4 linked regions of the Homo sapiens genome follow. Changing the gene in region 1 together with any one later gene gives a genetic interaction. Each region holds a gene or a part of one and is shown in the gene's direction. Other genes may lie near its edges.

Evidence for each region.
Region 2: changes in MED1 (region 1) and DICER1 together harm fitness more than expected from each alone (negative genetic interaction), as found in Homo sapiens cells (one large-scale study listed by BioGRID).
Region 3: changes in MED1 (region 1) and PSMD6 together harm fitness less than expected from each alone (positive genetic interaction), as found in Homo sapiens cells (one large-scale study listed by BioGRID).
Region 4: changes in MED1 (region 1) and MED23 together harm fitness more than expected from each alone (negative genetic interaction), as found in Homo sapiens cells (one large-scale study listed by BioGRID).

The regions. Positions count from the first base shown.
Region 1 is NC_000017.11:39,412,197-39,417,480, reverse strand, and holds part of MED1 (mediator of RNA polymerase II transcription subunit 1), read left to right. Parts: intron 1-2,141; coding exon 2,142-2,237; intron 2,238-2,349; coding exon 2,350-2,455; intron 2,456-5,284. UniProt on the Homo sapiens protein: Component of the Mediator complex, a coactivator involved in the regulated transcription of nearly all RNA polymerase II-dependent genes.
Region 2 is NC_000014.9:95,091,530-95,095,029, reverse strand, and holds part of DICER1 (endoribonuclease Dicer), read left to right. Parts: intron 1-873; coding exon 874-1,142; intron 1,143-2,335; exon of another isoform or gene 2,336-2,461; intron 2,462-3,500. UniProt on the Homo sapiens protein: Double-stranded RNA (dsRNA) endoribonuclease playing a central role in short dsRNA-mediated post-transcriptional gene silencing.
Region 3 is NC_000003.12:64,016,995-64,020,494, reverse strand, and holds part of PSMD6 (26S proteasome non-ATPase regulatory subunit 6), read left to right. Parts: intron 1-1,053; coding exon 1,054-1,199; intron 1,200-1,457; coding exon 1,458-1,677; intron 1,678-1,787; coding exon 1,788-1,896; intron 1,897-3,500. UniProt on the Homo sapiens protein: Component of the 26S proteasome, a multiprotein complex involved in the ATP-dependent degradation of ubiquitinated proteins.
Region 4 is NC_000006.12:131,618,243-131,621,742, reverse strand, and holds part of MED23 (mediator of RNA polymerase II transcription subunit 23), read left to right. Parts: intron 1-1,013; coding exon 1,014-1,115; intron 1,116-1,846; coding exon 1,847-1,916; intron 1,917-3,223; coding exon 3,224-3,336; intron 3,337-3,500. UniProt on the Homo sapiens protein: Required for transcriptional activation subsequent to the assembly of the pre-initiation complex. Component of the Mediator complex, a coactivator involved in the regulated transcription of nearly all RNA polymerase II-dependent genes.

The DNA.
Region 1 (5,284 bases):
ATTTTTTTGTATTTTTAGTAGAAACGGGGTGTCACCGTGTTGGCCAGGATGGTCTCGATCTCCTGACCTCGTGATCTGCCCGCCTGAGCCTCCCAGAGTGCTGGGATTACAGGCATGAGCCACCACGCCTGGCCTTTTTGTTTTTTTTTTTGAGACGGAGTCTTGCTTGGTCACCCAGGCTGGAGTGCAGTGGTGTGATCTTCACTCACTGCAACCTTTGCCTCCTGGGTTCAAGCAATTCTCTTGCTTCAGCCTCCCAAGTAGCTCGGATTACAAGTATCCACCACCATGCCAGGCTAATCTTTGTAGTTTTACCAGAGACGGGGTTTCGTCGAGTTGGCCAGGCTGGTTTTGAACTCGTGACCTCAGTGGTCTGCCTGCCTCGGCCTCCCAAAGTGCTGGGATTACATGCGTGAGCCACCATGCCTGGACTTTTTTTTCTTGATACAGGGTCTTGCTCTGTTATCGAGATTGGAAAGCAGTGGTACAGTCATAGTTCACTTTGGCCTCAAACTCCTGGGCTCAAGTGATACTCTTCCCTCAGGCTCCTCAAGTCGCTGGACTATAGGCATGCACCTCTACATCTAGTCAAATTTTAAAGAAATTTATATTATACTTTTTATTTCAGTGTACATATTTATACAGCAACATTTTTTTTGTAGAGATGGTGTCTTGCCATGTTGTATAGGATAGTCTTGAGCTCCTGGCCTCAGGCATTCCTCCCACCTCAGTGTCCCAAAGTGTTGGGATTACAGGCATGAGCCACTGTGCTGGGCCAGGAGATTCTTCTCATGGAAATAAAAATTGCTTTAGAAATGAGAAATTTTTAGTAGTTGGAGTAATAACATAGAGCATATATGTTCAAAGTTGTGGCACTTCTGTTTCATGTGTTAAAATGCCTTAAGAAGTCTCCAGATAGCTTTAGGGCATTTAAAAATGAGTTTTCATAAGGCAGTTATGGAGCTAATCCTATAGAGAGGCATGCTTTTTACAAAGAAAGTATATGATCCTTGTGTCTAGGCTGCTAGCACATCTGGCATAAGAACATATGATGATGGCTAGATATATGTGGAATAAATACATTATTTTAGATTATAGCCTCTATATCTCTGCTTGCCAAACTATGGGCTGCACATCTAACAGCTGCAAACACTTGATAGAAAGCAGAGTTTATGGCAGTGGTTCTGGATATCTGCTTATCAAGTAGAATGAGACACTCGGCCACTTTTATTTTCAGAATTCACTTTTACATTTTAGGGATTAAGTTTCTTCATCTTGGAAAATTGAAAGTCTAGCTACTTTTGTTCTGGAGAAATTTATAACAAACTGGCAGGTTCCTTGGAATCTGATTCCTTCTGTCATCTGTGGATGACATATAGTAGGTTTTGTATGTGAAAAAAGTGTGCGATTTAGTTTCCAAGGAGGGAGAGAGAATTTCAGTCTGTACATTTAAGGAATGTTATTTGTGTGAAGTCTTTTTTTTTTTTTTTTGAGACAGAGTGTTGCTCTGTTTCCCAGGCTGGGGTTCAGTGACATGATCTCGGCTCACTGCAACCCTTGCCTCCCAGGTTGAAACGATTCTCCTGTCTCAGCCCTCTGAGTAGCTAGGATTACAGGTGTGCGCCACCACACCCGGCTAATTTTTTTTTTTTTTTTTTTTTTTTTTGAGATGGAGTCTTACTCTTGCCCAGGCTGGAGTGCAGTGGCACGATCTCAGCTCACTACAACCTCCGCCTCCTAGGTTCAAGTGATTCTCCTGCCTCAGCCTCCCGAGTAGCTGGGATTACAGGCATGTGCCACCACGCCCGACTAATTTTGTATTTTGTATTTTTAGTAGAGATGGGGTTTGTCCATGTTGGTCAGGCTTGTCTCGAACTCCTGACCTCAGGTGATGAGCCCACCTCAGCCTCTCAAAGTTCTGGGATTACAGGCCTGAGCCACTGCATCCGGCCTCTTTTTTTTATTTTTTAGTGGAGTTGGGGTTTCGCCATGTTGGCCAGGCTGGTCTTGAACTCCTGACCTCAGGTAATCCACCTGCCTTGGCCTCCCAAACTGCTGGGATTACAGGCGTGAGCCACCGTGCCCAGCCTGTGTGAAGTCTTATATTTGGTTGTTTTATGATCTTTCTCTTTGCCTTTTAGATTCTCCTGGGCTTCTCCAATTTGAAGTGTGTCCTCTCTCAGAGTCTCGTTTCAGCGTATCTTTTCAGCACCCTGTGAATGACTCCCTGGTGTGTGGTGAGTTGTGTGGGTGGCTAACACCTCTCATGGAGCGGTTTGGTCCCTATGTCTTTTTTGGAAAAGTCAGAAGCTAAATCTAAAACAATTTCCTATGTATTTTGTCTTTCAGTGGTAATGGATGTGCAGGACTCAACACATGTGAGCTGTAAACTCTACAAAGGGCTGTCGGATGCACTGATCTGCACAGATGACTTCATTGCCAAAGTTGTTCAAAGGTAGCCTTGGCCCTTTTTCATCTGAGTCCCATTTAGAGATGTATAAAGAATGTTGTTGAGTAGGGCGCGGTGGCTCACGCCTGTAATCCCCACACTTTGGGAGGCCGAGGCAGGCGGATCACGAGGTCAGAAGATTGAGACCATTCTGGCTAACATGGTGAACCCCCATCTCTACTAAAAATACAAAAATTAGTCAGGCGCGATGGCGGGCACATGTAGTACCAGCTACTCGGGAGGCTGATGCAGAAGAATAACTTGAACCTGGGAGGTGGAGGTTGCAGTGAGCCAAGATTGCGCCATTGCACTCCAGCCTGACGACAGAGCAAGACTCCGTGTTTTTGTTTTTGTTGTAAAAAAAAAAAAAAAAAAAAAAAAAAAAAAAAAAAAAAAAGGCCGGGCCTGGTGGCTCACGCCTGTAATCCCAGCACTTTGGGAGGTGAAGGCGGGTGGATCACGAGGTCAGGAGATTGAGACCATCCTGGCTAACACAGTGAAACCCCGTCTCTATTAAAAATACAAAAAATTAGCCCGGCATGGTGGCGGGCGCCTGTAGTCCCAGCTACTAGGGAGGCTGAGGCAGGAGAATGGCATGATCCCGGGAGGTGGAGCTTGCAGTGAGCCGAGATCATGCCACTGTACTCCAGCCTGGGCAACAGAGTGAGACTCTGTCTCAAAAAAAAAAAAAAATGTTGTTTTCAGAATTAGCATGAATTTCAAATAAAGGAGCAATTTAGTTATTGCTTTGATTTCACCCTTCTCTGCTTTCGGATTCAAAGTAATCTAAGCTTTGTTTTTTTTTTTTGAGATGGAGTCTTGCTCTGATGCCCAGATTGTACAGTGGTACAATCTTGGCTCACTGCAACCTCTGCCTCCCGGGTTCAAGTGATTCTCCTGCCTCACCCTCCTGAGTAGCTAGGATTACAGGCATGTGCTACCACACCTGACTCATTTTTGTATTTTTAGTAGAGACGGGGTTTCACCATGTTGGCCAGGCTGGTCTCGAACTCCTGACCTCAGGTGATCTGCCTGCCTTGGCCTCCCAAAGTTCTGGGATTACAGGCGTGAGCCACTGCACACAGCCAGCTTTGTTTTTTTTTTTTTTTTTTTTTTTTTAATGATATTACTATGAGAGTAATGGGAAGTAAAGTAGGTAACTTCAGGCCTGGAATTATGGTACTTTAAGGCAGGAGAAAGCCATAATAAAATACAGATATTTTTCTTACCTATCCTGTGTGCCAATTCTTCATAGATGTGACATTTTTATCTTTTTATTCTTTTATTTTTTTATTTTGAGACAAGAGTCTCACTCTGTTACCCAGGCTGGAGTGCAGTGGTGTGATGACGGCTCACTGAAGTGTTGACCTCCGAGGTTCAGGTTATCCTTCCACCTAGACCTCCTGAGTAGCTGGTACTGCAGGTGTGAGCCACTGTGTCTGCCTGAGCAGATTTCACAACTTAAATGTTAGGCTGGGCGTGGCAGTGCATGCCTGTAATCCAGCACTTTGGGAGGCCAAGGCGGGCAGATTACTTGAGGTCAGGAGTTCGAGACCAGCCTGGCCAACATGTTGAGATGTCATCTCTATAAAAATACGAAAATTAACCGAGCATGGTGGTATCCGTCTGTCATTCTAGCTACTTGAGAGGCTGAGGCAGGAGAATCACTTGAACCTGGGAATCGGAGGTTGCGGTGAGCCAAGATTGCGCCACTGTTCTTTAGCCTGGGTGATAGAGTGAGATTCTGTCTCAAAACAAACAAACTAACTAAATAAATAAAAATATAAAAATTAGCCAGGTGTGGTGGCAGGTGCCTATAATCCCAGCTACTCAGGAGGCTGAGGCGGGAGAATTGCTTGAACCTGGGAGGCGGAGGCTGCAGTGAGCCGAGATTGTGCCACTCCACTCCAGCCTGGTAGACAGAGCAAGATGCCATCTCAAAACAAACAAAAAGCCAACTTAATTGTTACGTGATAGTTAAGCCAGTATGCATCCCAGAACCATTAATATGTAATTTTTTGAGATTTTTCTACAGCTGGGTCTGGCAGCCTATTTTTGTAAATAAATTTTATTGGAACACTGCTGTTCATTTACATGTCTGTGGCAGATTTCTAGTTAATATTGCAGAGTAGGTGAACAGGAAACAAGACCTACAAAGCCTAACGGATTACTATATGGCCTTATAAGAAAAATTTGCGGCCGGGTGCGGGGGTCACCCCTGTAATCCTAGCACTTTGGGAGGCTGAGGCGGGTAAATCACGAGGTCAGGAGTTCAAGACCAGCCTGGCCAAGATGGTGAAACCCCATCTCTACTAAAAATACAAAAATTAGCTGGGCGTGGTGGCGGGCTTCTGTAATCCCAGCTACTTGGGAGGCTGAGGCAGAGAATTGCTTGAACCTGGGAGGCGGAAGTTGCGGTAAGCCAAGATCATGCCACTGCACTCCAGCCTGGATAACAGAGCGAGACTCTGTCTCAAAGAAAAAAAAAAAAAAAAAAAGAAAAATTTGCTGGCTGGGTGTGGTGGCTCACGCCTATAATCCCAGCACTTTGGGAGGTGGGTGGATCGCCTGAGGTCAGGAGTTCGAGACCAGCCTGACTGACATGGAGAAACCCTGTCTCTACTAAAAATACAGAATTAGCTGGGCGTGATGGCGCATGGCTGTAATCCCAGCTACTCGAGAGGCTGAGGCAGGAGAATCACTTGAACCTGGGAGGTGGAGGTTGCAGTGAGCCAAGATCGCGCCATTGCACTCCAGCCTGGGCAACAAGAGCAAAACTCCGTCTCAAAAAAAAAAAAAAAAAGAAAAAAAAATTTGCTGACATATGTTCTAGAG
Region 2 (3,500 bases), on another chromosome or scaffold:
AAAGACTGATGAAACTAAAGCCTAATTTTCGTTATGGAGGAAAAATGATACGTGGCTTTCGACTACATTCTGCTGGAAGTTCCGAGACCTGGGTTCTCGCCTAGCAGTCCCTGCTTCTTAATTCCTTGCTTATTCTGGGACAAGTCACCATCGGTCCCTGCCTCAGTTTCCTCAGCTGGATATATTATTTTAATCACTGTGAGAAAATAGAGGTGTTGATTTAACATTGATCATTTTCACATTTTGACAACCAGTTTACCTGCCTTTGCTCCCTTTCACAACTCTTCTTTCTCAATCTCTTGGTTTGTGGTAAATTCATTTCTATAATAGCTCAAGTTAAGAAGAGGGTCTTCTTTTCCTGTCATCCTGTGTAACAAAAATAGCCCAGGAATAGTGAGGAATGGTATCACTTATGCACAGATTCCAGAGTGTGAATGAGACTTTAGCGATGGCAGCACAGTGTAGCCACATGGAGAGGTGTGTGCGGCCCTGGTTTCACTTAAGTGATGATGTGTGAGGGAGACTCGAGAGGAAGGCCCCAGCACCTGCCCAGACAGCACAGTGCCAGAGAAAAGCATTCAGTGATCATGATAGCACCTGTGAGGTTTTGTTTTTCCTTCTTAACAAGCGTTAGTCTTTTGACCACTTGAAGATTTTATGACCCCAGTTTATATAAGAAATGTACTTAATTTGTCATTAAAATTTAGTTTCCAGAGGCTTTTTAGTATGATATGTCAGATATCCTTTTTGAAGAATATATGTATGAAAATGATTGTAAATACAAATCTTCTTCGGATTTGGGGATCAGTTGCTATGTGGGGATAGTGTAAATGCTTCTGCACAAGCTTACGGTTCCACTTCGGATCCCCTCAGATTGTTACCAGCGCTTAGAATTCCTGGGAGATGCGATTTTGGACTACCTCATAACCAAGCACCTTTATGAAGACCCGCGGCAGCACTCCCCGGGGGTCCTGACAGACCTGCGGTCTGCCCTGGTCAACAACACCATCTTTGCATCGCTGGCTGTAAAGTACGACTACCACAAGTACTTCAAAGCTGTCTCTCCTGAGCTCTTCCATGTCATTGATGACTTTGTGCAGTTTCAGCTTGAGAAGAATGAAATGCAAGGAATGGATTCTGAGGTTAGTGCTGTTCAAAACGATGTTGAAAAAAGTGGTCTAACTAGGAGTCTCTGTAGTTTCAGAGTTCTGACGGCATAGTGGTCTAAAGGGACAGCAGGAGGTCAGGGGTGTGGGACCCAGTGTGCTGTGTTCTGTGGGAGCACGAGTGAACTGCAGTTTGCAGGTAGGCCTCTTGAACTTGTCTGCCCCCACTGTGGGCTGTGTGGTCATTCAGGTGAAGAGAAGGAACCAGGCCTTTCAGTTAGGTACCCTTCCCACGCCTTCATGAGGGCTTCCAGCATTGAGGCATGCCAAAGAAGTGGCCTCCACTGCCGGACCCCAAGGCAGGTTTAGCTTTAGTAAAAGCCCAGTGTAGCTTATCCTTCCTTTTTTAAATGGATCAGAAATATTTGCTAATATCTCAGGGAAGCATCATAAATATACATTCTGCTTCTACTTGAAGTGGGAAAATCTAATTTAAAAAACAAACTTCTAAATTTTTGACCATTGGAATTTGGGAGGCTTCTATTGTAAGTTCAGCCAAAGGCTGTCTGGTGACAGAGCTAATTCTAATGTGTTTGTGAGCTATTTCGAATTTTTGTAGGAAAGGATATTGCTTAGATCTTTCCAGTCTCTTAACATTCATCTGCATACCTGTGTCCCCCAGAGAGACTCTCATTTCCTCCTCTTCCCATTTCATTTCCTTTGATTTTCTTATTTTTGTAGATTTTCTTATAAGGAGTCAGGAAATACAACCTTAATACTAGTAGCTGTTTTAGTTGTCATTGCTTTAATTTGTACCTTCCCCTTTTTAATTGCACCAAACCTTTGTTGGGGAGTAGTGACTTTCTATGACAAAAATTAAGAGTAGGTTTGAAGTCTAGCCGCAGAGCCGAGTTCACGCCCTGCCAGCTGCCCAGATGTGCACTGGAGGAGTCAGTAGGCCCTGCTCTTACTTTAACGCGCCTCTGTGCTCTTGTCCAAGATGAACAGCCTGAGCTGGAGCGTGGCAGGCTGTGAGGCGAGAAGGCGGGACCAGCTCGTAGACTTCCAAGTGTTACCTAGTCTCATTCTTTAGAAATAGCTAAGCTTGAAATTTGAGGAATTAGTTAAAATTAGATTTAAGCTCTCTTTGGATGCCAGTGGGGCATATTGGTTTTGTTAGTTTTTGTTCATTCTTTTCCTTCCCTTTGTTTATATAAACATATGTATAGAAGTTACAAGAACTGATTGGAAATGTCATGGTCTGGCATTTCTAACTTACTATTTGATCTTAAGAAAGTCTCTTTACCTCTCTGGGCCTCCGTTTCCTCAGCTGTAAAAAGAGAGAATTAAACTTGGTAAGTTTTAAAATTCCTTTCTATCTCAAAACCATAAATATGAACAATAAGTCTGTTTTTTTAAGTAATCAGCAGTATAAATGTATTATATGTAACTTTGTATGGCTAAACAACCTATTAGAAATTAGTATTTTCCCACTTTCTCTTTATTTTTTTCACAAATGATTTGTGTTGATTTTAGAAAAGTTAGTACAAGTAAATAAGAAGAAAATTAGTTAAATTTGCCTGATTATGCTACCTCGGAAATAACCAATATTAACATTTTGGGAGGAATTGTGGATGTGTATAGATATAAACATATCTAAAATGTAAAATGGAATTCTGTTATGTATAGGATACTGTCACCTGTTCTTTTCACGTATAATATATTGTGGCTGACTTTCCGTGTATTGATGGGTATCGTGATGCTCAGGGGCCACACGCTAGTCAACACGTGGCTGATTGATTTAAACGCTTCTTTATGGCCGAGTAATTAAGTAGTTTTTGGTTAGGATGTTTAATAACCATGGAGGTGATAAATACGCTTATGTATCTAGTTACCTCCTTAAAATAAGTTCTTAGAGATGCAATTGCTGCATCAAAGAATTGTGAACTTTTCAAAGGCTTTTGATGCATGATTTTCTTTTATTAATTTGCATACATGCTATGTCAGATACTCGGTTATAGTGAACACATATCTAGTGGCTTAATGAAGAGGGAACTTGGAGGAAAAAATCTTTCAAATATAATTTCCCTATTTCCCTACAACAGCGATTTCTGCTCCCCAAAGCAGCATACACCCGTGCCAGCACCAGACCAATTAGTACTATTGAATGCTTGCCAAGCAGCTAGGGAGTAGAACTGTTTTAAAGTATAGTTCTTTGATTACGAGTGAATTTGAATTTTTTTCATACTTTTATTGACTATTTCTAATTCTTTGTTAAGGTTGTTTAAAGTTAGAAGTAATCTTTTTTCTTTGCTGGGTATATAGAATAATAAATGGGGTGGGGATATTTTTTCTTTTTTTCTTGAGAAGTTTGAAAAACTTTTTTAAAAATAT
Region 3 (3,500 bases), on another chromosome or scaffold:
ATGAGAAACTTGAAACTTTTGATTCAGGTTTTGAAGAATTTCAACAAGGACATGCTTGAATCAGTATCAGGAAGTTGTAAAATGTTCTAATATTATATTTCCTCTGTATTTATTAAATACTCTTCCAAAACGAACAACTTTTCCCCTCCTATTTACTCTCGTTTTTTATATTTTATTTTATTTAGTATTACTAAATACTTAATGGACTTAGTGGGCTTTTATTATTCACTGTTACCACTGATGAGAGTCTTATTCTTTATGGTGCTAAGTTTGTTGCAAATTTGTTAGCAGAGGCTCCGTCAAGACACTTTGTCCTTTTGACATATCTCATTAGTCTTATTTTCTGATAAAACAAAATGTCACAGGTTCACCTGTTATTTTCACTCTAATAAACGTAGAATTATCTATTTCTCCTAGGATCCCTGGTTCCTTTTAGTGGGGGATAGTATTTAAAAACCAAGATCTTAGTGCTAGGTGTATCCATTGCTGTATTCCCAGTCCCTTATAAATTTGTGAAATATAACTAATAATTACATAAACCAGGCAGACACATACTGAAAACTACCAAGTGTGAACAAATTATTTTATTCATATTCAAAGCAAAGGAAACATTCCACAGTGCTTTGAGAGAAAATTATATATTTACAAATTTAGTCATATTCTAATAGCGACTAAGATACAATTTCCAAAACCCTTCAGATGATGTTATTTTGATGTAGTGTATTGTGATTATGAGAGAAAACATTGAATATATAGAACAGAGAAAAATACTTAACAATTGTGAATATATTTTTCTTAAATTGTTTTCCTGAATCTAAGTATATGCTTGGGCATTTCTTATGTATTTTTTAAACTTTATACAGGTAGAGAAAGTAGAATAATAAACCCTTGTGTACTTATCACCCAGCTTCAACAATTAACAGTTAATGGCCATCTTGTTGTACTTCTACTCCTACCTCTTCCCTCAACCTTTGAAGAAAATCCCAGACAGCTGATAGCTTTTTTTGGAAACTTGTAGCCTTTTCTCACCTATTGCCTTGGCTTTCTTGACAGGAGGGAGCTCTGACAGCCTTTCGCAAGACATATGACAAAACTGTGGCCCTGGGTCACCGATTGGATATTGTATTCTATCTCCTTAGGATTGGCTTATTTTATATGGATAATGATCTCATCACACGAAACACAGAAAAGGCCAAAAGGTACTTTCTAAGGGTGGGATTATATTTTCTCTAAATTATGATGCTACAAATGAGAAGCTGATATAAGAAACTGCCTGTTTTGTTTACAGCTAGTAAGTTTGGTCAAATAATTGATGTACTTATTTAGTAAAATAATTTAAATATCTCCTTTCGGTTCAAGTTGTTAAAAGTTGTTTTCTCATTTCAAATAACAGACAAGTTTTTAAAACGTGGCCTTGTCTGTTTCCAGACTATGATCTTACTGTTTTTATTTCATAGCTTAATAGAAGAAGGAGGAGACTGGGACAGGAGAAACCGCCTAAAAGTGTATCAGGGTCTTTATTGTGTGGCTATTCGTGATTTCAAACAGGCAGCTGAACTCTTCCTTGACACTGTTTCAACATTTACATCCTATGAACTCATGGATTATAAAACATTTGTGACTTATACTGTCTATGTCAGTATGATTGCCTTAGAAAGACCAGATCTCAGGGAAAAGGTAATGACCAAACTTTAATACTCAAATTTAAAGACTTGTTTTTTTTGTTTAAATACACAAATCATTAAAATGTACATTTTTTTTGTATATATGTTTTTTAAAATACCTAGGTCATTAAAGGAGCAGAGATTCTTGAAGTGTTGCACAGTCTTCCAGCAGTTCGGCAGTATCTGTTTTCACTCTATGAATGCCGTTACTCTGTTTTCTTCCAATCATTAGGTAAGGATAGGGTTGATATTTTTGATTATCTGTCTTCATCTTACTCCTGATCCTATGTGCAAATAACCTAAGACGATTTTTCACCTATCTGAGAAATGTAGTGTGTAGGTAGCTGCATGTCTTTGATCAGTATTCCTAATGTGCCCAGTTTTGTTTAGAAGAAGGGTCATCAGATTGTGGCCTGCTGTATGGCCCAGGAGGTAAGAATGATTTTTACATTTTTAAAGTGTTGTTTAAAAAAGGAGGATGTGACGGAGAGCTATGTAGCTTGCAAAGCCTAAAAATACTTACCCTCTGGCCCTTTGCTGAGGGTATTTGCCAGACCCCTGGTTAAGAGTCTTAATGGGGTATAAGGCAAAAGTGAGCAAATGGTTATTAAGTATTGAGCTTCATGGGGACAGAAGTGAGGGAATTCTGAATGTGATTTGGGGTGGAGATTAATTGAACCTTGAATTCAGCAATGGGCTATTCTGTATCAATAGCTAAATAGCTAAATCTCTGTGCTGATTTGCAAATCATTTTCAAGGGCTATGGGTTAAGAAAATAATCTCTTGAACGTAATTGTATTCCTTCAAAGCTAGTTTGTAGTGATCCTGCCTTCACACATTTGCTTGTTTCTCCCTCTTGTCCCCATTCTTTCCTGGCTATTTGGTTTCCTAATAATGACCACAAACTATTAAGATGATAGAAGAATCAGCTTGCATCAAGTTGACCCAGGGGTCTTTCCCAAAACTTAAAATTTGACATTGATATATTTTGTTTATGCTGCAAATTTCAGAAGGTGTTTGGTTAAATAGATAGCTTTGGAGAAAAGTGGGAATGGACGGTTCCAAATGACGATTGTTAATGTTTTTGCAGTGGGTTTTGGCCCAGTGTTTTTGGATGCTTTCTCCATGCATATAAATTGGGCTGCTTTATGAGAATTCATAGTATTTACCTCAGGTAATGTAGGAACAGGTTTCCCGAGCATGATGAGTAACTCACTTGGCCTTATCTTCTCATACATACACACACAGTTATGTTGCTTTTGCATATAAGGTTATATTGTAGAATTGCTCTTTTCCCTTTTTTATGCTTGAGGTCTCCTGGTCATCACTCAACTCAAATATGGAGCCCTTCCCTGCTTCCCTCAGTCAGAACAAATCTTACTTCTCTGCATTCCTGGGATTCTTATTGTATGCTCCCTCCTTCAAAAAAATTGAGGGAGCCCTTCCTTGCTTCCCTCAGTCAGAACAAATCTCTTACTTCTCTGCATTCCTGGGGTTATTGTATGCCCCCTCCTTTAAAAAAACTGAGGTATAAATCACACACCATAAAATTACCTCAAGTGTACAATTCAGTGCTTTTTCATATATTGGCAAGGTTTTGCAAATATTAATAATTCCAGAACATCTTGATCACCCCAAAAGGAAACCGACACCCATTAGCAGTCACTCCCTATTACTCCTTTCCCCCAGCCCCTGGCAACCACTGATCTACTTTATGTCTGTACGAATTTGCCTATTCTGGACATATCATCTAAATGCAGTCATAAAATACGTGGCTTTTTGTGCCTGGCTTCTTTCACTTTATAATGTTCCCACATTCATCCATGTTGTAGCATG
Region 4 (3,500 bases), on another chromosome or scaffold:
AGATGCTAGTTCCCTTATATTTCAAAAGGACATTTTAAATTTTAATTCATGGTTTTAAATTATGAAAACAATGAAATAGAAATTAAAATAGCTTAAACATTACAAGACCTTAGCATATGGACCACTTAAAAGATCTTTGTACTTTGTAACTAGTATCGCAAGAATTGTTACGTTGGTCTGTTGCACTCCTGTTTAAGTGTGCCAATATTTAAAGCATGTGCAAGGTTATTTACTAACCATGAACAATCCATTCCATTGTTTATTAATCTTTATTTTTAGATATTTTTTACATATAAATGTATTCTTTGCTACAGTTGAAACCCAATAAATCCATTAAATAATATCTCTATATTTTATTTTAATTGACAAGTAGCAATTGTCTGTGTGTGTGTATATATATTATATATACTTATTTTTTTATAATGATAACACTTAAAATCTACTCTCTTAGCAATTTTGAAGTATACACTATATCGTTATTAACCATAGTCACCATAATGTCCAGTAGGTCTCTTGAACTTATTCCTCTTGTCAAAGTGAAATTTTGTCCTTTGACCAACATCTCTCCAGAAAGTAACATCTCTACTTTTTAATGTCTTTTTTGTTGTCATTGTCATTGTAGTGTTTAAAACGCTCACATGGGCCAGATGCAGTGGCGCATGTCTGTAATCCCAGTGCTTTGGGAGGCCAAGGCGGGAGGCTCATTTAAGCCCATTGTTAGAGACCAGCCAGGACATCCTGGGGAGACCCTGTCTTTACAAAAAATTAAAAAGTTAGCCGGGCCTGCTGGCATACACCTATAGTCCCAGCTACTCTGGAGGCTGAGGTGGGAACACCACTGGAGCCCCAGAGGTTGAAGATGTAGTGAGCCATGATTACGCCACTGCACTCCAAGCCTGGGCAACAGAGCAAGACCCTGTCTCAAAAAAAAAAAAAAATAATGATAATAAATAAAATAAAGGGCTTATATGTGGGACTAGTCAAGAATGATGTGGCCTTTTTGTTTTTCTTAGGTTATAGCATATATCTTGGAAAGAAATGCCTGCTTATTACCAGCCTATTTTGCAGTCACTGAGATCAGGAAACTGTATCCTGAAGGCAAACTTCCACACTGGGTAAATTTTATATTTCCTGAATTTTTAATAAAAATTTTCGGCTGGGCTTCGTGGCTCACAGCACTTTGGGAGGCAAAGGTGGGAAGATGATTTGAGGACAAGAGTTCAAGACCCAACCTGGGTAACATAACAAGACTCTGTCTCTGCAAAACATTAAAAAACACACGCACACATATTAGCCAGGCATAGTAGCACATGCCTATAGCCCCAGCTACTCAGGAGCTGAGGTGGGAGGATTACTTGAAACCAGGAGTTTGAGGCTGCAGTGAGCTGTGATCACACCACTGTACTCTAGCTTCGGCAAAAGGACGAGACCCTGTCTCACACACAAAAAAGGGTATTTTATAAAAAACAGTTATATTAATCTTATTTTTGTGTGCTTATTTTTTTAATGATGACTTTTATCCTTAGATAATATGTATATTTTTAATCATGATGTATTTCTTTCATTTCCATTTCCATTGAGAATTTATATGCCATGTAATAAAATATGATCAGCTTCATCAAATAGCTAAGGATATGGTGGTGTGACTTGGTTTAATTAAGGGACAGATGAACTGGCGAGTGATTTTTTAGAAGGAAGCAAAAGGGAGCTAACCTTTAAACAGTTATCATGTGCAATCTTTACATATATTATCTCATTTTATATAAATGTTCATATATTTCAGGGGCAGTCTCAATTTTCCTTTTGTACGTATTTATTTGACTTCCCTCTTTCTTTCTCTCTTTAGTTACTTGGAAACCTAGTATCAGACTTTGTGGATACCTTCAGGCCCACAGCAAGGATAAACTCCATTTGTGGTAGGATTATAATTTTAAATATGCCAAATAGTACCTGATTTTTAGTAATCTAATTATTGAACAAAGCTGAGGGATGTTCTCTTAATATGTGCCTTGGTGGCTTGTCATTTTGGTGACTCTCTAAGAGCTTAATATAATGCCTTTCCCTTGTTTTCACTTACTCTGTGTGCCAAGTACAGGGAGGAAAAAGAAACTCTCTGGAATGGGTTTAAGCTTCATTTAAAACCATTCTAGAAGTGGGTTTCTTGGTGATTAGAAAGACATTTTAATACAGCTAGTAAAGCACCATGGAATTTCTAGGCAGCTGGAAGTCTGAACAGACCTGTCCCTCTGTGGCTACAGAACGTGAAAGTGTCAGGCTCACTCAGCCCATTCTAATTCCCACTTTTGCTTTTCCTTTCGCATTTTCCCATGTTTTGTTAGAGTCTCTGAACTTTCTTTTAAAAATAACCATGTGATTTGGCAATTTTTGCAGTGCCCACATATCCTCTTTAATTATTTCTAGAAATCATGGTGACCTCAACTGTGTGGAAATATAGACCATTGTTTATTCAGTGATCAAATATTGAGTACTTCCTATAAGCCAGGTGCTATTCTAGATACTGAAAATACAAATACAATCTAAATAGACACTAGACAGATAATTATCAGGTTTCTAGCTTTTGTAACTGAGTGGATATTGATATCATGTAGTGAATTATGGAAGCAAAGTAGGTTGGAGAAGGATGATGAATTTGAGACATGTTAAGCTTGAGGTGCTTGTAGGACATCCAAGTGACGATATTTGTTAGGCAGTTGGATGTATGAGCTGATAGTCATATGTGACATCTAAGGCCTCTAGGAATATCGTGCATAAAGTTTAATCATGTTGACACTGGACTAGTGGTCTTAAACTTTTTCCTGTAAAGGGCCATGTAGTAAATATTTTAAGCTTCGTAGGCTACAGAATCTGTTGCAGCTACTCAGCTCTGCCATTGGACTGCAAAAGCAGTGGTGTTCCAATAAAACTTTACAAAAACAGGTGCCAGGCTGGATTTGGCCCATGGATTATAGTTGGCTGATCTCTGCCCTAGACATTTAGACAAAATGCGATATTTTCAACTTTGGAAAGCCTGTGCAAATTGATCTTCAACTATCTGAACTAAAAATAAAATTCCCAACCTTCAGTCTCATTGAAACATTTTTATAAGCCATTTTTAAACCAAACCAATGCCTATTTCAGCATATATGTTCATTAAATATTTGTGAAGTGAATGAAGTACTGCTGTGTTCACATTTACTTAAAAACATTTTTGTAATACATACAGGTCGCTGTAGTCTTCTGCCAGTTGTAAATAATTCGGGTGCCATTTGTAATTCATGGAAACTGGATCCTGCTACTCTTCGTTTTCCTTTGAAAGGCCTTTTGCCATATGATAAGGTATGTTGCTAAATATAATGGCACTTTTAGTCCATCTGACAGTCTTCAACCTAGATTATAAGATATGTGATGCTAAATTGTTGCTTCATAATCTGAAGAAGTAAATATTTAATGAAAGATAGTTTATAGTTTATCATGTTATTCTAGTATCTAAATATACCCTG